7 linked regions of the Homo sapiens genome follow. The protein of the gene in region 1 purifies or fractionates together with the protein of each later gene. This does not show direct contact. Each region holds a gene or a part of one and is shown in the gene's direction. Other genes may lie near its edges. The genes, in order: RIC3, SLC30A7, TAPT1, DNAJC11, RMND1, ATP9A and SLC30A5.

The links.
Region 2: the proteins of RIC3 (region 1) and SLC30A7 purify together in Homo sapiens (affinity purification with mass spectrometry; 2 studies listed by BioGRID and IntAct, with this or other methods). This does not show direct contact.
Region 3: the proteins of RIC3 (region 1) and TAPT1 purify together in Homo sapiens (affinity purification with mass spectrometry; 3 studies listed by BioGRID and IntAct, with this or other methods). This does not show direct contact.
Region 4: the proteins of RIC3 (region 1) and DNAJC11 purify together in Homo sapiens (affinity purification with mass spectrometry; 4 studies listed by BioGRID and IntAct, with this or other methods). This does not show direct contact.
Region 5: the proteins of RIC3 (region 1) and RMND1 purify together in Homo sapiens (affinity purification with mass spectrometry; 4 studies listed by BioGRID and IntAct, with this or other methods). This does not show direct contact.
Region 6: the proteins of RIC3 (region 1) and ATP9A purify together in Homo sapiens (affinity purification with mass spectrometry; 4 studies listed by BioGRID and IntAct, with this or other methods). This does not show direct contact.
Region 7: the proteins of RIC3 (region 1) and SLC30A5 purify together in Homo sapiens (affinity purification with mass spectrometry; 3 studies listed by BioGRID and IntAct, with this or other methods). This does not show direct contact.

The regions. Positions count from the first base shown.
Region 1 is NC_000011.10:8,159,026-8,162,525, reverse strand, and holds part of RIC3 (protein RIC-3 isoform a precursor), read left to right. Parts: intron 1-3,500. UniProt on the Homo sapiens protein: Molecular chaperone which facilitates proper subunit assembly and surface trafficking of alpha-7 (CHRNA7) and alpha-8 (CHRNA8) nicotinic acetylcholine receptors.
Region 2 is NC_000001.11:100,979,174-100,982,257, forward strand, and holds the end of SLC30A7 (zinc transporter 7), read left to right. Parts: 3' UTR 1-2,584; downstream 2,585-3,084. UniProt on the Homo sapiens protein: Zinc ion transporter mediating zinc entry from the cytosol into the lumen of organelles along the secretory pathway.
Region 3 is NC_000004.12:16,177,972-16,181,471, reverse strand, and holds part of TAPT1 (transmembrane anterior posterior transformation protein 1 homolog), read left to right. Parts: intron 1-1,814; coding exon 1,815-1,895; intron 1,896-1,902; exon of another isoform or gene 1,903-2,492; intron 2,493-3,500. UniProt on the Homo sapiens protein: Plays a role in primary cilia formation. May act as a downstream effector of HOXC8 possibly by transducing or transmitting extracellular information required for axial skeletal patterning during development. May be involved in cartilage and bone development.
Region 4 is NC_000001.11:6,649,817-6,653,316, reverse strand, and holds part of DNAJC11 (dnaJ homolog subfamily C member 11), read left to right. Parts: intron 1-365; coding exon 366-488; intron 489-1,714; coding exon 1,715-1,788; intron 1,789-3,500.
Region 5 is NC_000006.12:151,414,127-151,417,626, reverse strand, and holds part of RMND1 (required for meiotic nuclear division protein 1 homolog), read left to right. Parts: intron 1-227; coding exon 228-348; intron 349-355; exon of another isoform or gene 356-546; intron 547-2,078; exon of another isoform or gene 2,079-2,209; intron 2,210-3,500. UniProt on the Homo sapiens protein: Required for mitochondrial translation, possibly by coordinating the assembly or maintenance of the mitochondrial ribosome.
Region 6 is NC_000020.11:51,604,391-51,607,890, reverse strand, and holds part of ATP9A (probable phospholipid-transporting ATPase IIA), read left to right. Parts: intron 1-306; coding exon 307-364; intron 365-2,870; coding exon 2,871-3,074; intron 3,075-3,500. UniProt on the Homo sapiens protein: Plays a role in regulating membrane trafficking of cargo proteins, namely endosome to plasma membrane recycling, probably acting through RAB5 and RAB11 activation. Also involved in endosome to trans-Golgi network retrograde transport.
Region 7 is NC_000005.10:69,097,014-69,100,513, forward strand, and holds part of SLC30A5 (proton-coupled zinc antiporter SLC30A5), read left to right. Parts: intron 1-3,500. UniProt on the Homo sapiens protein: Together with SLC30A6 forms a functional proton-coupled zinc ion antiporter mediating zinc entry into the lumen of organelles along the secretory pathway.

The DNA.
Region 1 (3,500 bases):
GATTGGGTTTTATTCTAAAGGCAGATGAGGCATCATTGAGTGTGTAAGGAGAAGAGAAACATTTAACCTGGTTTTAGAAAGGACACCCTGGCAGCAGTGTAGACACTGCGTTGTGAGGATTTCTTCAGGGAGAAGATTGTTGTAGTCATCCAGTTGAGACATCATGAGCATCACCAAGTCATTGTCATTGGGTTCACCAGTTAGGGTGCTTGTGACAAGTGACAGAAAAGTCAGCTTGACTAAGACAGGGAATTTATTGACTTGTGTAAATGAAAAGACCCTGTGTTAGAAATGTCTTGCAGTATGGTTTGAACCAGAGACTCACAGTTGTCACACTGGGGCTCTAGCTCTTATTTTCTGTGTCCTTTTCACTCTGGGTTCGTTCTCAAGTTGGTTCTGTGCTCTGGCTGCCCTCTCAGGGTGGTAGCAATGGTTGCAACAGTTTCGGACATTACCTCCTCACATTCCATTGCCCGGAGAAAGTGAGTGTCTCATTTATAGCAACAGTTTCGGACATTACCTCCTCACATTCCATTGCCCGGAGAAAGTGAGTGTCTCATTTATAGCAACAGTTTCGGACATTACCTCCTCACATTCCATTGCCCGGAGAAAGTGAGTGTCTCATTTATAGCAACAGTTTCGGACATTACCTCCTCACATTCCATTGCCCGGAGAAAGTGGGAGTGTCTCATTTATATACGTGTGTGTGTAGAGCTGGCCTGGAACTCCTGGCCTCAAGTCATTGTCCCACCTCAGCCTCCTAACGTGCTGGGATTACAGCACTTTGCTGGGCACAGCTCCAGGCCTCTTTTCTTTTAAGTCCTCCATCACTCTCACCTTCCAGCCTCACTCCCAAGATTCTTTCCCAGAAGTTCCAGCAAACATATCCGTTCACGTTAATGGCTTGAATTAAGTTAACTTGTGGTGCTGTGGGTAGAAAGAATATACTGATGAATCCACTCTGGAGTTGAGAGGAGTTCCCAAAGGAAAATATGGATATTAGAGCAAGAGAGGTTATCAATGGATAGATTGGAGGGAAGAGAATAATTTTAAGAGACATTTTAAAATAGAATGGGAAAGTGAGGGAGAGGGAGACATCTGGATTATTCTCAGGTTTAGGTGAAGGGATAGATGTTGATTTCCTTTGCCAAAATAGGAATGGAGGAAAAGTAGATTAAAGGTGTGTGAAAAGAAAATAAAAACTTGGGACCCCAGTTCACTATGCCAAAAGGAAAAAATTAAGCTGAAAGCTGAGTCGTGCAAGAAACTGCCTTTCCTTTTGTTCCTAAGCAGGTAGCTACAGATAAAAAATTAAATATCTCTACAGGTAGCTACTCTATGTTCACCGTATCTTACGTGAAGTGCCGATTTACTGAGCACCAGATGAATACATAATTGACTATTCCTCTACCTGCTCCTTTTCTCTTGCAACATATAGATTACCATACCCTTCTTTCCCCTCCAGCTCACTTTTCCCCTTGAAATATTGAAGCCCTCAAAATCATCTTTGGAGAAAGGCACAGACCTCTCTCCTGGGCGTGTCCTTAACGTTGGCAAAATAAACTTCTAAATTGATTGAGGCCTGTCCCAGATACTTTTTGGTTTACAGGTGTAAGATGATTAATCCAGGAATTGGAAAAGTAGTATTATGTCCCTTTCTTCAGTCTTCTTTCCTGTGTTAACATCCCTAGCTCCCTCATCCGTTCCTGGTATGACCTAGGTGCAAGTGTTTGAACACAGCCCTCTCAGAAGAGGCTCTTAGAACTGCAAATAACAGCATATCTAAGACAGTTCATGAAAGAGCAATCTGTTGTTTCCCTGCACTCTTCTTCTTCTATACTTAATGCTTTCTGGGGATTGCTCTAGTTTTTAGCATTTTCCTTGCTGACTTTGCTGTATATTAGAATTCTGAGCCTTTTTTTCTTCTTTTTAATAGGAGCTGCTCATCTAGGTTTTGTTCATTTTCTACTGTTCACTTGATGTTTCGGAATGAAATGTAGGAATTTGTAGTTTTCCTTGTTGCATTTTATTTGTTTAAATTTGGCCAAGAATTCTAGCTCTTGAAATTTTTTCAGAGCATTCAATGTTTCATTCAATGTATCTGCTTACCATTTCTTAGCTGTGTGCCATTCTTGATTTTTAAAAAACTTTTTGTTAAAGACATTTTCAAACATAAGCAAAAGTTGAGAGAGTAGTAAAATGAATCCATATCATCCTGCTTCAGCAGCCATCAATACATGGTCAGTCTTGTGTCATGGGTATCCCCACCCACTTTTCCCCCCATTCACTGGATTATTTTGAAGCAAATCCTAGACATTGGATCATTTTTCATCCTTAAATGCTTCAGTATGCATCTCTAAAAACAGATTCTTATTAAAATGTAGCCACAATACCATTGTCACACCTAAAAAGTCAATACTTCCTTGATGTCATTAAATATCTAGTTGGTGTTCAAATTTTTCCCACCATGTTATAATTTTTCTTTTTTTCTTTCTTTTTTTACAATTTTACCTTTGATTATGATCAGCATGTTTTCTCTTTTTGTTTGTTTTTTCTCAGGCTGGAGTGTAGTGGCAGGATCTGAGTTCACTGCAACCTCTGCCTCCCAAGTTCAAGCAATTGTCCTGCCTCATCCTCCTGAGAAGCTGGGATTACAGGCATCCACCACCACGCCTGGCTAATTTTTTTTGTATTTTTAGTAGAGACGGAGTTTCACCATGTTGGCCAGGCTGGTATCGAACCCTTGACCTCAGATGATCTGCCTGCCTTGGCCTCCCAGAGTGCTGGAGTTACAGACATGAGCCACCATGCCCAGCCTCAGCATGTTTTCTTGATAGGTCAAATTATTTTTTTAAATGTCTTAGTCATTTAAAACTGCTTTTAGAGTCCCACCACTGTATTCATGGAAACGTTTTGTTTAGGGTCATTCAACCAGTTGGTTATTTGGTTGCTCTATTCCATCTTACTCTGTCACCCTGGTTTGCCTCCTTCCTCCTTCCCCACTTCAGTCTATTCTCAATATAGCTGCCAGATAGTATTATGTTGAAGCTTAAGTCAACTCACATCTCTCCCCTCCTCAAAACTCTACAGTGGCTTCCTGGCTTAGATGAAAAGATAGTCTATACATGACCCAAAAGGCCCTATGTAATTCTCTTCCCCATTTGCTTCTACTTTTCTATCTGTCTCACTTTGTTGTGGCCACACTGGCTTCCTCCTCACTGTTCCTTGAATATGCCAAGCATGTTCCCACTTCAGTGCCTTTGCATTTGCTGTTTCCCTTGTTTGAAATGCTCTTCTTTTGGATATCCATGTGCCTTTCCCTTCGTCTTCATGTTTTCTCTCAAACTGCATTTCCTGATGCCTTCTCTGGCCATTCCAGCTAAAATCTTAACTTCCAACACGGTCCTACCCCTTCTCCCTGTCTTATTTTTTCTCCTTAGTATTTATCATTATCTTGTTTATTGTCTCTTTTCCTACTTAGAAAGGAGGCTCTGTGGCCG
Region 2 (3,084 bases), on another chromosome or scaffold:
AAAACTGCTATTTCTAACTCTTCATGAAAGCATTACCTTTGGAAAGTTAAACTTTTTTTTTCCTTTCATCACCGTCTTTGAAACAAATTATTTTCCAATTCATAAGAACTTTGGTAAAAAAAAAAATAAAAGGAAATTATATGTTTTTCTTTGGACATTCATTGGAAGGCTTGTTGAAGACATGATCCCCCAGAAGCCTTAGTGACCCAGATCTCAACCAGAGACTCAAGATAGCCTCAAATACAGTGAAAGATTATGTATCCAAAAAAAAAAAAAAAAAAAAAAGAAAAGGAGCAGGGAAGGACAGTTCTAGTTAAAGCCAAATGGATGTGAGTCTGACAAGGGTGTCTTTGATTTATATTTCCTAACTGCAAATTACACAGAAAGTGAGAATGGGGAATAACTTTTATTAAGTATTTATGTGCCAGGCGGTTAGTGTGGCCTTCATGTTATTACATTTAATCCTCAAATTTCTACAAAGGAATAATTTTGCATGATTTTATGATTGACGGAGCATTTTCAAATCTCCTCTAATTCTCATAACATCTCTGTGAGGAAGGAATTTTTATCCTTATTTTACAGATGAGGAAGCTGTTTGGAGATAATTTAAGTGACTTGCCTGGGGAATCTAGCCAGTAGTAGAGTACTGATTAATCAGGTGCTGACATCTGCTCTGCTTTGTGTATGTAATTCAGCAGTGCTTCAAAGATCCAAGAAGCTGTAGCAGATCTCAATACACTCTCCTATAAAATTAGTGAATAATCACCATGACAAAATTGGTATGGCGGAACAGTCATTATACATTATTTAGACTCATTCCTTCTTCCAGTGCCCTTATGATTATTTCCTACCTTTACCATTGATCTTAAACTGTGCAGGCTAAAAAGAGGAACCAGAACTCCCTTAAGCACTTTTAAGACTATTTAAAAAATAAAGTTTTGTTGGCATTGAAGAGTAAGCTGCTTAAGGGACTGAATGAAAAGATAGTACCCTTTGTGGCTGTATGAAGAGAGAAACTGAATTTCTATCCAAGAGACCTTAATTTAGTTTATTAGGGAATTATCTTCCCCAAAAGTACAAGTAATTTTGCACTGCAGGAGAAGGATAAGTAGATTTGATTTACATCACATTTTATACACACCTTTCAAAAGGAAGAAATCTGTTTCATAAATAGTAGTAATCTATGCTTAAACTTAACATTTAATGTTGACTTCTTACAACAGCCTTGAAAATTATTTGTAATTTTGATCATGATGTTGGAAAGCTTGTAATAAAGAATATCTTTCTCTTCTGCATCCTTTTATCCTCAAACTTAGCATGGATTCACATGCTGAGTAAATGTTTGGTTAACTAGTGAACATTTTAGATAGTTGTGTCAAAAATAAGGGTTAGGGATAGGTAAAACCAGTAATTTACTGTTTTTTACAGAAGACATCTCAGCATTTCTTTGGCATTTTTGCACAAATAAATGACTATATATTCACCTTGGCCATTTTTTTTTTTAAGTAGCCCTATGAGCTGCTCATTCTTTTTCATATACAGTGGAAGTATACAGATGTTATCCATTTTACAAATTGTTGGATCGGAATTTGACAGAATTGGGACTGTGGAACCTGGGTCACTTGAATTTTCTATATTTTGTATGGCCAAATCAGGAACCAGACAGTCTCCATAGTCTCCTTTGTTTTTATGGAAAATTGCCATATTCACATATTTCATTTATCCTAATGTATTGTCATCCAAAATGAAAGAGGTCTTTCTTGAAGGTGCTTTAAAGACATCACTACATGTATTCAATTACTGATTTAAATATTCCCAGAATTATTTTTTACCTTTCTCTTTTTCCTCTCAAACACAAAATTTTAGTAGTACCTCCCTCTATTTCTTCACTGATTTTTCATCTGTTTTCATTGTTATTTCCACTATAGAACTTCTACTTTATACTAGCGGGGAAAATTTTTTTATTTAGAATTTTAATATTTGAATTTTGTTTATGTATCACATACTGTGCTACAGTTAGCCTCAATGAAGATTCTATTTTGAACTAGACATCCTGTCAATAGTTTGTCAAGTAACTTCATTGCTTCCTTTGATAGCAATTCAGTGAAATTTTTTCCCAAGTGATATTTTCCCCCAACTTTTGTGAGTTTGATAAATAGGATGAGTCTTTTATATTGGAAATACTGTGAATGGAAAATTGCCAAATCCCTTCTTAGTATATTTTAAGCACCCTACAACACTTTACCTCCCTGCCTTTAGTGGTATTTAAACATATGGCCAAGTTAGTATTTGGGTTTGATTCCTTTGGTGAAGATTAAGGCATCAAAACATTTCTTAAAATGTTTGAGTACAAGGCTAAGTTATAATGTCAACTTTCAAAGACTATGTTGTGATTCGGTTTGAATATGCTGAAGTGAGCAATTATGATTTGCCCAAGTGCAATACAACAAATCTATAATGTATATTTCACATTTTCTACTTGAACACATTCATGTATATATTTTGTTAAACTTCATATGTATTTAAAAAGAATCATGAACTGTATCAAAATTCTTTCAATAAAATTTCTATTTAAAAATCTCTACCTGAATTGTGTCTTATCAGTTTGACGAACTGAAACAAACACTGTGAATCTTACAGGTATTGGAATAGATACTAGAGGACTTAAGGAATGAAAGGCAAAGAATGATTCTCAGAGCCAAGAAACAGCAGAACTTACTAGGAGAGAAGAGATGCTAGGAGGTTGGAAGTATCTTTACATTGTGAACAGCCTCATTGTGGCTCTTAGTCAGCATCTGACCTCATAAACATGTCTCGAAGTATTTACTTCCAGATATTTCCATCACTCCCAAGTTGTTCTCTCATCTCAGTTTCTATGGATGACTTTGTCTTATATGACGTGAAGACCAAAACATCTGATGTGAGCCTCCATTATCCTTCCAAATTTTTCCCTCTGATTAGATGCAATTCTTTTTTAAAATAACTTCTTCCACAGTATCCCATGCACCACTCATGTCACCTTCCTTCTCAAAGGTATTCTTACCAAAGCAGCTTCTTTACTATCATCAATCTCTGCCATACTTC
Region 3 (3,500 bases), on another chromosome or scaffold:
TGTCCAAAAATCAAATACAATTAATTTAAATTCGATGGTAGTTTTGCTTTGTTAGAGTTTACAAAAGTTACTTTGGCTCATTTCAGATAGTGTTTTAAATTTCTCAAGGCCATTTATTTTCAGATAATTCTGTAATGAAGCAAGTCTATATTATACATGTTTGGGAAGTATCAAAAATAAATACATTTCATTGTTAAATTCATTTATGGAAATTAGAAAGGACTTAGCACACATATAGGTACAGCTTGGTGAATAATTCTACAGAATTCCAATTAAAGATACATTGGTAAATTTAACCCCATGAATTAAGATCCACAGTTAGCTGTAGTAACAAAGAATATATTTTGTGTCAGACTTTGATGGAACTTATTCTAGGGCAGACTTTTCTTAGTTTCCTTTAACCTGTATCCTCTTTTGAAGTCACAGAATAAATTAAACATGTGATCTAGACAAATCAAAACAGGTGCACCTGAAAATCCACATGGCCTTGCTCCGGAGGTGCCCTGCCTCCTAAAGAGGCATCTCAGTGCTTGGTACCTTGAGACTCACTGTGCCCTGAGCTCACACTCATAATAAATAGTGCTTCAGCTTTGGAAATAGGAAGTGAGTAGTGCCCACTGGGCTTTGAGGGAGTGAAGGCACAGCTCAGACCCATCACTAATAAGGAGGTGAGCTACCCTGAAAAAGAAGGTACCAGCAACTGACTGGAAGAGCTTAAGGATGTAGGGAAGGTACAGAGAATAAAGGCCAACTCGCTTACAGAGAATAAGGTTTTGCTGTGGAATAAAAGTTTGTATCATGTTGCTAGAGAATAATGGGGAAAGGTGGAAGTAAAAAAAGAGAAGCAAAGACAGTCCCATGAAGTACATCAGGATGAAATTGAAATTCAGAGCGCTTACAGGAGGTGCGCCATGGCTGAATGATATGGGTGAGGCTTGCATTTACTGAGGCAGTGGGAAAGTAGGGAAATGACAGCAGACTGTAAAAAAGCTTTTGAGATGGGTTGTTATATGAGTGATTGTTTCTAGTCACAGCCCCCACTATTGCATCGGCACACATACATGGGTGTGCCACTCTTAACTGCAGACAAATTTATTTTGTCCCATTTCTTGGTTACACGGTATCTTAGACTATGAGAAAGTTAACAGCTTAAAAAGTGAAATGTGTACACTGGCCTTTAGCAAGAATTCAGTGATTTGCTTTTATTAAATTCCTTCCACCTAATCTCAGCACACAGTTATTAGTTTATGGTAAATATTATGAAGCCCAATTTGGGGTTATTTTACCTCAAGTTCTACATACACCCCCGGAAATGCTATTGTAGTAGCAGGATTCTCTCAGCTAAAGGACTCATCAGTTCAGTAATTGTGTACTATTTACCAGATTGGAAATAGTCTGGGATTTTATACAAGGATTTTGTTACCCAAAGTCTTTCATTTTACTCTTTGCTTCTATTTTTTCTTCCGTAAAATGGAAACAGTTGTCATATGTCCCCAAAGCCCATTGGAGGAACCTAATGACCTCATCTGAGCAGTTTGATGGTTTGAATACTTTTTGAAGTTTATAGAAAACTGGAATTTCCATACTAGAATTATGTTGGCAAAAGAAGTCAATGGCTTACCATGGTAGCACCAGCCTATATATACACACACACACACACACACACACATATATATATATATAAAGTTGTATATTTATAGACATTTATACATCGTCTAATAATTTCATCATGTTCTGGCTAAAATAATTATATATGTACTTTATTATGTTGTTTATATACACTACAGTACTTATGTTGATTTTTTTTCTTTTAGATATTAAGGAACGATTCACAAATTATGTGCTTTTACTGATAGTGTGTCTAAGAAACATGGAACAGTTTTCTTGGAATCCAGGTAACTCACTCTTAACAAAACAGTGTCTTATAATTTTACTTCTAAGCCAAAATCATTCTTTTACATGGAATAAAATGAATATTGCAGAAAACTCCAAAAGACTTTGGCTGTTTTACTGTTTGGGTATTGGTGAAACAATCATCTGTCACTTAATGACCTTCAGTCAACAATAGACCACATATACGATGGTGGTCCCATAAGATTCTAATGGACCTGAAAAATTCCTGTCACCTGGTCTCCTAGTGTCCTTTTCTGTGTTTAGACATGTTTAGATACACTTACCATTGTGTCACAGTTTGCCTGCAGTATTCAGTATGGTAACGTGCTGTACAGGTTTTGTAGCCTAGGAGCAATAGGTTATACCATATAGTCTGGGTGTGTGGTTATACCATCTAGGTTTGTGTAAGTACCCTCTATGATGTTAACACAGTGACAAAATTGGCTAGCAACACATTTCTCAGAATGTATCCCTGTTGCTGAGCGACACATGACTGTACCTGTTTCAGTAGAATGGATTGGGTATGTTTTCTGTGGTGTAGTGGGATGCTGTCATTTTCCATAAACTCCTCAGTGTCTCTGGAGCTGTACACTCAGTAGGTGAGTGCGCCCTGTTATGCCTGGCAGCTCTGAGCCTTTCGGTTTTTAACTGTAGTGTACTTTAGTTACCTAAATCCAGAAAGATTGTTTTCATCTTAGGGGTTAACCAGGAGAACCTTTGCTCTTCCCTAACATTATCTTTTACCCATTGATTAGCATTTTAAATAGGGATAAATTAAATATAAAGTAAGGTGGAAATTTTGCTACTTAGGTGCGTCTCTGAATTCAGGCTGACAGGAAATTGTCAAGACTCCATGAATTTTCATTATCCATTCAGTTAGCAGACATTCACTGAGCATATGCTAGTTTCTAGGCACAAGGACAGGCACTGTGGCAATGTAAAAAATACTACGACATTTGTAGGACTTAACAGGCTAATTAAGGGGAAGTGGGTAATTATAATGCTAAGTGAGCTAAGTGGGAAATGATCAATTTCTCAGGTATCTCAAGTAATTTAGAGTTTTTGTTTGAATGTCTGACGTTTTTGTTGGAATCTCATTCTTAAAGGATGCAACCATGTTTTGGATTTCATTTATTACTCCCAGTATTATATATGTTATAGGCATTTATTAACTTCTTAATTTATTTTAATTCATTGGTAATTTTCAAGTAACTGTGAAAAATCAAAAACATATAAAATGAGAGATACGGTCTTGGAGATACATTTTCAGAAGTTTTTTTCATAGAGAAACCATAAGATTAAATGACATCTCACAGCAGCTCGAGCAGGCTACCTGGCTTGTGGTGGAAAAGCCTCTTCCTCCACACACACAGCTAGATTCTTTGTGTACCCAAATTTGTTTTAGTGAATGGTGGTATATTTCTTTATAACTAAGTCACCTAACAGGGTGTCCATGAAGGGCAGAGGGGGTATGTGTCACTGGTTCCGGTAGAGTACATGTAAGATCAGCAATTCCCAAAGCTGAGTGGTTAAACCAAAAGACAAATAGTCTTTATGCCTCCTAGACAGCTGGATATTTGAAGTCATATTCTCATTTATACTGTGAC
Region 4 (3,500 bases), on another chromosome or scaffold:
TACAGCCATGGGAAGGTCTTCAGTCCCCCTGGAACCCTGATGGCAAACCACAGAGGGAAGGCACACAGTGAAGTCACTGTGCTATCTGATACCATTGGGACATGCAGCCCCATGTTTCCCCTGGTGTTGTGAAATGTGCCCATTAAAGCTTTTGCAAAGCATATTACCCTCGTGGTCACATGCAGACCAAATAACAAAGCGGAAGAAAAGTGAAGCTGTTGCGGCAGTTCTGCATCCATGTGTGCTTCTGAACAGAGGAATCGTCTGCACCTTTGGCCTTGGGCTCACAGTGCGTTCTTTAGGCTGCTGCCATTGGCACTTCCTGTTGTTTTGATTCATTCATTACCAGCAAATACCATTTTTAGGCACCCTTGACAGCGACAGACACAGCCATCCTCTCTGGAAGCCTCTCAACCCAGAATGGAAATGGAGGAGGTTCCATTAACTTTGCGCTCAGACGAGTAACTTCGGCAAAGGGATGGGGAGAGGTAAGAATGTCTATTGGCTGAGTTGTGTTGTCTGTGCAAAGCCTTATTTCTGAACATTTACACTCTCAAAGCTCACCCTCAAACTCACCCTGGGGGCCCCGTTGTTGTGTAAGAACGGTACCAAGTGTCAAGCTTCCATAAGTTGACTGGTCCTAAAAGAAAAATAGGTCTCATGAGCCTGGCCAACATGGTGAAACCCCGTCTCTACTAAAAATACAAAACTTAGCTGGGCATGGTGGCACCTGCCTGTAATCCCAGCTACTTGGGAGGCTGAGGCAGGAGAATCACGAGAATCACATGAACCCAGGAGGCAGAGGTTGCAGCGAGTCAAGATCGCGCCGTTGCACTCCAGTCTGGGGGACAAGAGCAAAATTCCGTCTCAAAAATAAATAAATAAATAGGTCTCATATCTGAGAAGTCCTGTCAGTCTTCCTCACAGTTTAAAATTGGCATAGAAAAACAAGGTTTCCTATGAGATGCCAACTTCTAGAAATCCAGCCTCTGAAACTCCGTGTGTTTGTTCCCTTTGAGCAAAAAGCCTGTGGGCTCTTTTTCCTGCACAATTCAGAAGGCAGGTGCTCTCTTCCGCGTGATGGTTCACTGATTGGTGGCCATTTAACAGCCAGTTCTGCCGAGCAAATTGAGCTGCATCAAATTAACATTGAAGAGTTGCTTGAAAGTCACCCAGACTAGTAAACACGGCAGCCAGGCTCAGCTGTGACTTCCAAGGCTGTGCGGGTGTGGAACCGCGGCTGGGCTTTAACATCAGGCTCCTGAGGACCGCCCCAGTGACCTGGGAGACATTTGGCGCAGGATGAAAATGAAAAGGAGTCGGCAGTGCATGCGGGGGTGGGGGGCACACCGGACCGCAGTCGGTGCTCTGCAGGTGGCGGGGGGCTGCGCCGGGAGGGGTAGGGGGAGCCAGCTGGTCTCCTGACCTCAGCCTGGGAGGCAAGGAACAGAGGGGAGCAGTTTTTTCTTTGGAGGGACACCAATGAAACATGTGCCTTTGAAGCCTGGGTCTCCTTTGGATCTGTGGCAGCAGACAGCTCCATTTGGCAAAGGTTAAGATGAGACATTAACAATCTTCCACCCCCTTCTTTTAGAGCCCTGGCAAGACCAGTGAATTGAATGAAGGAATTATACCTAGAGGTACATACCTGAGCCTGGGTTGCTGCTATGAGATAAAACACCATTAATGCCTTCTCTTTTTCCTTTTCAAACAGTTGGAATTTGGAGCTGGAGACCTACAGGGGCCTTTGTTCGGTCTCAAGCTGTTCCGTAATCTCACACCAAGATGGTAAATATGAGAGACAGCAGCTCCTCTTTGGTGGTCTTTGTTGGCTTAGGAGACTAGAACTGTGTGTTCTTTTTATCACAGTGGTTGGCACTATCTTGTCTGTCCTACAAGGTCACTGCGTACATCAAGGGCAGGTATAGCACTGGCGTGAAGCCCAGGCAGTGTGCAGGTGGGAAGAGGCAGGATTGAGGGGGCCGGACCCTTGTCCCAGCCCTGGCCAGGCTGCACCATCCAGGTCTCGCACCTCCCTTACCTATGCCACAAGGCCACGGAGAAAGAGTGCCTTCAGGGAGAGTTGGTCAGTGGACCGAAACACTTACAGACTTATGGATCGTTCCATTGTCCCAGAGAATGACAGACTGCCTCATCATCGGGTTGATTGACATATGCCAGAGATGTAGTCCCCAGCCAGCCTCTGCTTCCTGTCGTCTCTGCTGCTGCCATGTCACACTCCTAGAACTGTATATCCCTGTCCCTTCTAGAACGACAGCAGTGTCTTCATTTCCTATATGGTGGGTGCAGTGATGTCTGTGTGAGCTCAGATAAAAGAATTGGTGGAGGGTAAATAATACCTCTTTCTTCCAGAGGAAGATATAGCTGAAGGAGTCCTAGAATGGAGCACATGGAGTTTATTTTATTTATTTATTTATTTTGGAGACAGGGTCTTGCTCTGTCTTGCCCAGCCTGGAGTGCGGTGGTGTGATCTCGGCTCACTGCAGCCTCTGCCTCCTGGGTTCAAGCTATTCTCCTGTCTCAACCTTCCGAGTAGCTGGGACTACAGGCGTGTGCCACCACACCCAGCTATTTTTGTATTTTTAATAGAGATGGGGTTTCACCATGTTGGTCAGGCTGGTCTCGAACTCCTGACCTCAGGTGATCCACCTGCCTCGGCCTCCCAAAGTGGTGAGATTACAGGCGTGAGCCACCACGCCTGGCCTATTTTATTTTACTTTATTTTTGTTAGAGACGAGGTTTTGTTCTGTTGCCTAGGCTAGAGTGCAATAGTCCGATCATAGTCCACTGCAGCCTTGAACTCCTGGGGTCAAGCAGTCCTCCTCCCTCAGCCTCCCGAAAAACTAGGACTACAGGCGTGTGCCAACATGCCTGGCTCATTGTTTAGTTTTTTTTAGGGATAAGTTATCTCTATGTTGCCTAGGCTGGTCTCAAGCTCCTGGATTCAAGCAGTCCTCCCACCTTGGCCTCCCAAAGCACTGAGATTAGAAGCATGAGCCACTTCAGCAAGCCTGGAGTATATGTTTTTTGTTTTGAGACAGGTCTCACTTTGTCACCCCGGCTGGAGAATAGTGATGCAATCTTGGCTCACTGCACCCTCAACCTCCCAGGCTCAGGTGACCCTCCTGAGTAGCTGGGACTACAGGTGTGCACCACCATGCCTGACTAATTTTTGTAGAGTTGGGGTTTCTCCTTGTTGGCCAGGCTGGTCTCTTAACTCCTGACCTCAGGTGATCCTCCCACCTTGGCCTCCCAAAGTGCTGGCATTACAGGTGTGAGCCACTGTGCCCAGGCACAGTGGCATGAATAACTTTCTTATCAAACATGTATTGTAGGCTGTACAAACATGTACAAACATGTACAGGAGTTCGAGACCAGCCTGGCCAACATGGCGAAACCCCCTCTACTAAAAATATAAAAATTAACCAGGCATGGTGGCGCTTGCCTGTAGTCCCAGCTACTTGGGAGGCTGAGGTGGG
Region 5 (3,500 bases), on another chromosome or scaffold:
TCCAGCTACATGGGAGGCTGAGGCAGGAGAACAGCTTGAGCCCAGGAGTTCAGTTTGCAGTGAGTTGTGATCACACCACTGCACTCCATCCCGGGTAACATAGCAAGACCCTCTCTCTTACCAAAAAAAAAAAAGTTTTCATAAAGCACTATGTAAATATTAAATACAATAGAAACAATGATTTTTAATTCAAGATAAATAAAAAGTTATAATTTTCCTTTTTAAAGGCACCGTATAAACTTGAGTTCAGACTTCCTGATTACTCCTGATTTCTACTGGGACAGAGAAAACCTGGAAGGACTTTACGATAAAACGTGTCAATTCCTTAGCATTGGCCGAAGAGTTAAGGTACGTATTTTGCACTTCTAATGAGAGAAAAAGACACGTTGTCGCCTATAAGTTGAATATGTTTAACTGCTTGCAGAGAAATATCTTGTTTGACTTCCATTCAAATCTCTTTATATTTCCCCTTCTTGTCCTCTGTACAGTCACTTCAATTTTTTGTGTCAAAGGATCTTCTGATATTAGCTCTACAGACTAGATAAGGTTGGTGAATAAGATGAGAGTTTGGAAGCCTAATGGTCCATCAGTAAGTTCTTGTCAAGTTTCAAGCAAGAGTTCATGACTGCTTCTGATCTGTCATGGTGACAGTGAGAATAGAAATAAATTTAAGAAAGAATCATGTAAGACAAATCAAGTGATGGGTAATAAGAGGCCATGGAGAAGAAAGAATAAAGGATGACTGATGTTTGCCTGGAGGTGACAAGTAGAAAGGTGGAAAAACAATAATGAGAGGTCAGAGAGGGGAGGTGACAGACTAAATCTAAGATATGCTGAGATTAGAGTAGCAACAAGATATCCAATTAGCTCCGTCATGCAGGCATTTAGAAGGGCAGAAGCAAAGTCGGGAAAAGAGACGTGTATTAAGAAATCCCAGCACTTTGGGAGGCTGAGGCGGATGGATCACCTGAGGTTGGGAGTTTGAGACCAGCCTGGCCAACATGGCGAAACCCTGTCTCTACTAAAAATACAAAAATTAGCCAGGCATGGTGGCATTCTCCTATAGTCCGAGCTACTCGAGAGGCTGAGGCAGGAGAATCACTTGAACCCAGGAGGTGGAGGTTGCAGTGAGCCAAGGTCGAGCCAGTGCACTCCAGCCTGGATGACAGAGTGAGACTCCGTCTCAAAAAAAAAAAAAAAAAAAAAGCTGTAGTGATGGAGGTAGACCACATGGGGAAAGAGCATAGAAAACAGAAAATTGACATTAGTACAATGTGTGCACATAGTTCTGTGACATTTTGCCACATCTATAGATCCATGCAACCACATGATCAAGACACAAAACTGTGCCAGGTGCGGTGGCTCATGCCTGTAACCCCAGCACTTTGTGAGGCTAGAGGTGGGCAGATCACTTGAGGTCAAGAGTTCGAGACCTGCCTGGCCAATATGGTAAAACGCTGTCTCTACTAAAAATACAAAAATTAGCTGGGTGTGGTGGCGCGTGCCTGTAGTCCCAGCTACTCGGGAGGCTGAGGCAGCAGAATCGCTTGAACCCAGGAAGTGGAGGTTGCAGTGAGCTGAGGTCATGCCATTGCACTCCAGCCTGGGCGTTGCAGCGAGACTCCATCTCAAAAAAAACAAAACAAAAAGACACAAAACTGTTTTATCACTTTTCCTCATGCTACCCTGTATAGTCACACTGCCCTCCCCCTACCCGGACTGTCCCTAACCCCTGGCAGTGAGTAATCTCTTCTCCATCTCCATAATTTTGTCATTTTGAGGATGTTATATAGATAGTCATACAGTATGTGACTTTTTTTTTTTTTTTTTTTTTGAGACGGAGTCTTGCTCTGTTGCCCAGGCTGGAGTGCAGTGGCTCAATCTTGGCTCATTGCAAGCTCTGCCTCCCGGGTTCACGCCATTCTCCTGCCTCAGCCTCCTGAGTAGGTGGGACTACAGGCACCCGCCACCAAGCCCAGCTAATTTTTTTTTGTATTTTTAGTAGAGATGGGGTTTCACTGTGTTTAGCCAGGATGGTCTCGATCTGTATGTGACTTTTTAACTGGCTTTTTTCACAGAGCATAATGCCCTCAACTTGGATCCATCCAAATTGTTGCTTGTATCAAAGTTCCTGTCTTCCTGTGGTTACTGAAACAATTTTTTGGTATTTCATTTTGATGTTACTTTTTAATATATCTCGTTGCATAGATATTTAGTAGTTGCTCTGGTTATTACATCTTACGTATATAACTTATTACAATCTACTGATTTCAACATCTTGCAGATTAAATGAAGTATAGAATCTTTATTTCCCTAATGGATGATTGGATGCAGAAAAAAAAAAAGAATTCTTATTTCTTTTATATTCCTTTACCCTTCCGTATTTATAATTTTCTTAACTATTCTTCTGCAGACATAGAAAACTTCATCAGATAATGTTATAATTTTTGCTTCAACCATCAAACATAATTTAGAAAACTAAGAAAAGCAAAGTCTGTTGTATGTGCCCATGTTTTTATTCTTTCTGTTCTTTTCTCCTTCTGATCTTCTAAGATTTCTTTTACTGTTTTTTTTTTTCAAGAACTTTATTTAGCCATTCTTTTAAGGTAAGTCTAGTGAGACAAATTCTCTTAGTTTGTCTTCATCTGAGAGTGTATTAATTTTCTCTTCATTCTTGCAGGATATTTTCCTAGAAATAGGATTCTAGGTAGACAGTTTTCTTTCTTTCAGCACCTGAAAAATGCCATGCCACTTCCTTCTGACCTCCATGGTTTCTGACGGAAATCTGCCATAATTCTATGACATCTACATTTTATCTTTTATTATCATTTCACAAGGTCTTTGAGGCTCTGTTCACTTCTTTTCCAGTATATTTTGTCTCTGTTAAGATTGGGTAATGTCCTTTGTTTCATCTTCTAGTTGATTGATTCCTTCCTCTGTTACATTCGTTCTGCTGCCCAACATTGAGTTTATTTCATTTATTATATTTTTCAGTTCTAAAATTTCCATGTTTTTTTATTTGTATCTTCTGTTTCTTTGCAGAGACTTCCTGCTTTTTCGTTTGTTTCAAATGTGTTCAGAATTGCTTGTTGAATCATTTTTATGATGGTTGCTCTAACATCATCTAATAATACCTAACCTCAGATACCTCTTGATATTAGTGTCTACTGATTGTCTTTTCTGATTCCCTCCAACTAATTTTAATACCTCCAGTTTCCCTCATTGCCTCAAGTGTTCTGGCTTGATATACAAGGTCCTTCCTATTGTTTCTGTTTTTCAATCATATTTCCTACCAATCCCCACATTCACCTTGTATCACATCAAAAATAAGTGATTAGCCTGGGAAACACAATGAGACCTCATTTCTACTAACCTTTTTTTTAAAAAAATTAGCCAGGTATAATGGCATGTGCCTGTAGTCTCAGCTACCCTGGGAGGTTGAGGCAGGAGGATTGCTTTAGCCCAGGAGTTTGAGGCTGCAGTGAGCCATGATCACGCCA
Region 6 (3,500 bases), on another chromosome or scaffold:
TGTATTTTTAGTAAAGAGGAGGTTTCACCATGTTGGCCAGGCTGGTCTCAAACTCCTGACCTCAAGTGATCCACTTGCCTCAGCCTTCCAAAGTGCTGGGATTACAGGTGTGAGCCACCATGCCTGGCCAATTCTTTTTTTAAAGAAATAATTCCTCCAATGTGTTCAGATGTGTGCGAGCCACTTTATTGATGAAGACAGATGGGTTGCCTTATCTCGTTAGCGGGAGAATAACGTGAAAGCTGATGGCATGCTGCGTGAGCCCCCCGCGAAACCGGCTCTAACCTTTCTCTGTCTCTCATTCAGGGACGGCCGTTGTCCTACAAGACATTCTTAATATGGGTTTTGATTAGCATCTATCAAGGTAAGGATGAGTGGAGACACCTGTTTGTCTTGTGCTCTGGTACTGACTCAGGGTGTCCCCTTCTTGCCTGTAGAACAAGAAGAGAAGAAACGAATCTGAAATAGCAGGAAGGAGGGTGGCAGTGGGACCCAGGGGAGACCCTGCTCACCCTGTATAAGGACTTGAACATCAGACATGCACAGTGCTGCTGTGTGAGAAATGAGGTAGTGAAGCCAGAGGAAGGCAGTGGACAGTAATCAAAGCCTGTGGGGCTGCTCCACTCATGAGGCAAAAAGCAGATGCTTTCTGGGATGTTCTGAAACCTTTTCTGAGAGTCAGGTCAAGTCGTAGTTTTGGAAAAACATGTTTACCTCAGTGGCCTCCAGAGGGGGGTCTTCCCAGACTGTGGAGGCGTTGTAAGATGACCTGTTGGAATATAAGAAGAAAATAGCAAAACTTCTGTTTGTATTTATTTTTCCTAACTCTTTTAAATTTACATATATATATTTATTTATTTATATATTTTTGAGACACAGGGCAAAGCCACCATGCCCAGAATCCTTTTTTAGTATTTCTATTTTTATGTATGTTTTGTAGTGCACATAATAGATTTTATATACTTATAAAATATATTTTATATAATATGTAGAAACAGAGTGAGACCCTGGGTGGCGGAGGGTCTCACTCTGTTGCCCAGGCTGGAGTTCAGTGGAGCAATCACGGCTCGCCGTAGCCTCGACCTCCCCAGGCTCAGGTGATCCCCCTACCTCAGCCTTCTGAGTCTGGGACCACAGGTGTACACCACCACCAAATCAGTTTCCAAATCAGTTCATTTCTTCCCAATGGACTGTGAGCCACGAGTCCCTGCAGGTCCAGCAAGATGACCTCATGCTGTGCTGTGGATCCTGTCGGGTGCTGACACAGGCTTTAATTCCTGTCTAGAAACCTGTTTCTAGTTCAGCATCTTAGACTACAGGTGTACACCACCACACCCGGCTAATTTTTGTATTTTTTGTAGAGATGAGGTCTCACCATGTTGTGCAGGCTGATCTCAAACTCCTGGACTCAAGCAATTCTCTTGCCTCAGCCTCACAAAGTGTTGGGATTACAGGCATGAGCCACTGTGCCCGGAATCCTCACTCTTTTTTAGTATTTCCATTTTTATGTATGTTTTGTAGTACATATAATATACATGTGAAATGATCCTAATATTTCTATATATCTGGACAGGTACACATATATAACTTACAAATAAACATGTGTATTTGGGGATTATTATTATTACTATTCTGAGATGGAGTTTTGCTCTTTTGTCCAGGCTGGAGTGCAGTGGCGCCATTTTGGCTCACTGCAACCTCCGCCTTATGGTTTCAAGCGATTCTCCGGCCTCAGCCTCCCGAATAACTGGGATTACAGGCGCCCACCTAATTTTAGTATTTTTAGTAGAGGCGGGGGTTTCACCATGTTGGCCAGGCTGGTCTCGAACTCCTGACCTTGTGATCCGCCCACCTTGGCCTCCCAAAGTGTTGGGATTACAGGCGTAAGCCACCGCGACTGGCTGGGGTTTATTATTTTTTTAAAAAATAAATTTACTGTTCATGTCTCCTATTGGGGTTTATTCTTTTTTTTTTTTTTGTAACAGAGTCTTGCTGTATCACCCAGGCTGGAGTGCAGTGGCACGATCTCGGCTTACTGCAACTTCCACCTCCCAGGTTTAAGAAATTCTCGTGCCTCAGCCTCCCGAGTAGCTGGGACTACAGGCATGCGCTTCCACGTCCAGCTAATTTTTGTATTTCTAGTAGAGACAGGGTTTCGCCATGGTGGCTAGTCTGGTCTTGAACTCCTGGCCTCCAGTGATCCGCCCGCCTCAGCCTCCCAAAGTGCTGATTACAGGTGTGAGTCACGACATCATTTTATTTTTTATTTTTTTGAGACAGGGGCTCACTCTGTCACCCAGGCTGGAGTGCAGTGGTACAATCTCAGCTCACTGTAACCTCCATCTCCCAGGCTCAAGTGATCCTCCCACCTCAGCCTCCTGAGTAGCTGGGACTACAGGTGCATGCCACCATGCCTGGCTAATTTTTGTATTTTTTGTAGAGACGGGCTTTCACCTTGTTGCCCAAGCTGGTCTCAGACTCCTGAGCTCAAGCAATCCACCCACCTTGGCCTCCCAAATTGTGGGTTTTCAGGCCTGAGCCCCCGCGCCTGGCCGCGACTCCATCATTTTAAATATTATATTTAACTTTCTATTTCTTTCATCAACTCTAGATACTCCCCTCCCTGCCTTACTTCCTTTTTTCTCCCTTTTTCTCACTTTGTAGTTAAAGATTATTTATCCTACAAGGTCAAAGAGGAAAATCAGAAAACCATAGGTTCAGACCTGCATAAAGCACCAGTCATTAACCTCATGTAACAAGTGATGCCTTTCATGTCTAAATGAAAACTGCGGAAAGGAGCCAGGTGTAGGCGAGCAGCGCACGGCTTTCGCAGGGAGGGTGAGGGGAATACCCTTCTCTGGTGTTTGCAGGGAGCACCATCATGTACGGGGCGCTGCTGCTGTTTGAGTCGGAGTTCGTGCACATCGTGGCCATCTCCTTCACCTCGCTGATCCTCACCGAGCTGCTCATGGTGGCGCTGACCATCCAGACCTGGCACTGGCTCATGACAGTGGCGGAGCTGCTCAGCCTGGCCTGCTACATCGCCTCCCTGGTGTTCTTACACGAGTTCATCGGTAAGACCCCTGAATGCTTAAACCCCGTCCGTCACCCCCAGTGAATCTGGCCCAGAGGTCTCACTGCCGTATGAAGGAAGGGGGGTTCCCAGCGCTCGGCCTGGGCTCTTCCTCCAGCAGTCCTTCCCGCTCAGCTGTCCACGTTTTCTTAACAGGTGTTCTCTAGGGACAGGTGGTAGTTGTGCCTCAGGGTGTGAAATTGAGGACAGAGGGCGTGATTGCAGTAGACAGTGTTTTTGTTTTTCTTTTTGAGTCGGAGTCTTGCTCTGTCACCTTTTTTGGGCCACAAAATCTTTTTGTTCCCATGAAATCTTAATCTGAAGTCCAATCTATGAAACTGATAAAAGGGGACTTGTGATAGCAAAGTGGCAGTGCTGGGAGGTGCCGAGCCCCAGAACCTTGCCCGTGCAGCCCTGCCTTGCTGCT
Region 7 (3,500 bases), on another chromosome or scaffold:
AACAAAAAAAAAGTAAATGTATATGTACTAGAAAAAAACAGAACACAAAAAACACCCTTAGAGATTTTAGTTGTTTCTTCCCTTCCTCTCTTTTTCTTTTTTTTTTTTTTTTTTTTTTTTGAGGCGGAGTCTCGCTATGTCGCCCAGGCTGGAGTGCAGTGGCGCGATCTCGGCTCACTGCAAGCTCCGCCTCCCGGATTCGCACCATTCTCCTGCCTCAGCCTCCCGAGTAGCTGGGACTACAGACGCCCACCACCGCGCCGGGCTAATTTTTTGTATTTTTAGTAGAGACGGGGTTTCACCGTGTTAGCCAGGATGGTCTCGATCTCCTGACCTCGTGATCCGCCCGCCTGGGCCTCCCAAAGTGTTGGGATTACAGGCGTGAGCCACTGCGCCCTGCTCTTTCTTCTCTTTTTCTTTCCTTCCCTTCCTTCATTCCTTCCTTTCTTCCCCTTCCCTTTCTTTTCTTTCTGACAAGTTCAGTTCCTCTGTTGCCCAGGATGGAGTGCAGTAAAATAATCATGGCTCACTGCAATCTCAAACTCCTGGGCTTAAGCAATCCTTCCACCTCAGCCTCCCCAGTATGTGAGATTGCAGATGTGCACCATCATGCCCAGTTCATTCTTTAATTTTTAGTAGAGATGAGGTCCCAGTATGTGAGATTGCAGATGTGCACCATCATGCCCAGTTCATTCTTTAATTTTTAGTAGAGATGAGGTCTTGCTATGTTGCCCAGGTTGATCTCGAACTTCTGGGCTCAAGCAGTCGTCCCACCTCAGCCTCCCAAAGTGCTGGGATTACAGGCATGAGCTACCATGCCTGGCCTGGATTCTTTGATTTTTAAAGTTCCAATTAATGAACTGTTGGGCTAAAGATGAAAAACCAGGCTAAGTAACCTATATTGATAAGCAGACATTCCTAGTTCATGTTATGAAGGAAAAACAATGGCGTCGATTTATCAGGACGTGGAGACGGGAGAGGAGAGGAGAGGGAGGCTAATTTTTAAAAACTTTTTGGAGAGACGGGGTCTCGCTGTATTGCCCAGGTTGGTCTTGAACTCCTGGACTCAAGTAATCATTCTGCCTAGGCTTCCCAGGCATGAGCCACCATGCCTGGCCCATCCCCCCACACCCCCAATTTATAAACCATTATTTCCCATTAACTAGTCTTGTCAAAGGTTATCACTGGACTTTTCTGTGAAGGTTTAGAAAATTCCCTGGTTCTCGCCAGGCGCGGTGGCTCATGCCTGTAATCCTAGCACTTTGTTTGGGAGGCCAAGGTGGGTGGATCACCTGAGGTCAGAAGTATGAGACCAGCCTGGCCAACCAGCATGGCAAAAACCCATCTACTAAAAATACAAAAATTAGCCTGACATGGTGGCAGGCACCTGTAATCCCAGCTACTCAGGAGGCTGAGGCAGGAGAATTGCTTGAACCCGGGGGTTCAATCAAAGAAAATTCCCTGGTTCTCTAAACATGGAATTACTGAAATCTGGATTTAGGTTCAAACCTGCCTCTTGGGCTTTGCCTACTGCAGTAGCTCAACAGTTCTCTGGCTAAAAAATAAAAATCAGTGTGTAATTCAAGTTCAATTCATTTAATAAATACTCAAGTATCTACTATGTAGAAGGCACTATACATGGGGTTTTAAACAACTCGGACTACCAGCTTATTTATTAGTTGTGTGACCTTGGGCAAATTACTTTTCTACGACTCAGTTTTGTGAAACAAGGATACCACTTCTTAGTTTGTAGGACTGTTGTAAGAATTAAATGAAATGATATATTCAAAGCACTTGGAACATAGCAGGTGCTCAACAAATGTTAACTGTGACCCTCTGCCCTTCCCCGCAAAGAGGACTTAAACCAAAATAAACCTTTGTTTAAAATAATCCATATTTGTGAATTTAGGCATAAAAATACCCACAATTAAAGGACTTGTCAACTAGTTTTTGTTGCAGATTATAACTAGTATTTGATTTTTGGTCTGTATAAAGTAAAACTCTTGCAACCTGGAATCCATCAAAATTCAACCAGTCCTGAGTTGCATTTGATTGATTCTGCAATAAACTACAATAGAAGGGTAACTCTGCTAAGTAAATAGTACAAATAAAATAGCAAAGGATTGTTTACCACATTTCCCTACCTGAGACAATACACTCTTGAATAAATAACACTTTTAAACTACTCATTTAAAAATAATTTCCTGTTTACCTAAAAGTCACAAGAGTAGTATATTCTTTACCTGGACTCCGTAATTGTTAATGTATCGTCCTGTGTAATTTATTATTCTCTCTGAATGCACACACACAGGTATTTTTTTCCCCTGGACTATTTGAGAATAAGTTACATAATTCATGCTTCTTTATCCTTAAATCCTTGTTTTTCCTAAAAACATGGACATTCTCTTATAAAGCCAGCAGAGTTGTCTACTTCAGGAAATTTAAGTGACCTCGCCAGAGGCTAAGACTCGTGACTCCTATAGTGGTTGAGGAGAGATAGTTGCCTGCCTGCTGGGTGGGAACCTGGGGATCTGATTACTTGGAAGACTTCCTAGAGATCCTCGTCTTTTCAGCTTCTCATTCCCCTCCTGAGGTGTTTCCAATTCCTGAGCCTTTTTAGGACTCTAGGTCCAGTCAATTGACCTTTCAACCACAACTCTCACTGTAGTCACTTAACAAGGCCAAGGAGGCGCAAACCAAAGGCATTTACCATTCTTCCGTTTCTTCCTATATTGTGGTCTTTTCATTTCATAACAGAATTTAGTTTTTATTTTGTTCTCCTTATTTGTTTGGAGGAGTTATTAAGTTAGAAAGCAGATAACAAAATAGTCCAGCAACTCGATCAACAAAATTTTCATTTTTCATTGGGCATCTTTTGTTAAAGTAAACTGTATCTATACATAATCATTCATATACATTGAAAAGAAACCAGAAGTATGTATACCAAAATGTTGTGGTTGGTTGGTTCGTTTTGAGACAGAGTCTCGCTCTGTTACCTAGGCTGAAGTGCAGTGGTGCAATTTCGACTCACTGCAACCTCTGCCTCCCGGGTTCAAGCGATTCTCTTGCCTCAGCCTCCCAGGTGGCTGGAATTACAGGCACCCGCCACCACGCCCAGCTAATTTTTGTATTTTAGTAGAGGTGAGTTTTCGCCATGTTGGCCAGGCTGGTCTTGAGTTCCAGACTTCAGGTGATCCACCCACTTCAGCCTCCCAAAGTGCTGGGATTACAGGCATGAGCGCCCAGCCTGTTTGTATTTTGAGACAGGGTCTCACTCTGTCGCCCAGGCTGGAGTGCAGTGACACGAACACAGCTCACTGCAACCTCAACCTCCCACCTTAGCCTCCCGAGTGGCTGAGACTGCTACCACGCACCATAATGCCTGGCTAATTCTTTGTATTTTTTGTAGAGATAGGCTTTTGCCACGTTGCGGAGGCTGGTCTCAAGCTACTGCACCTGGCCTCAAAATGTTAACAGTAGGGCGCGGTGGCTCACACCTG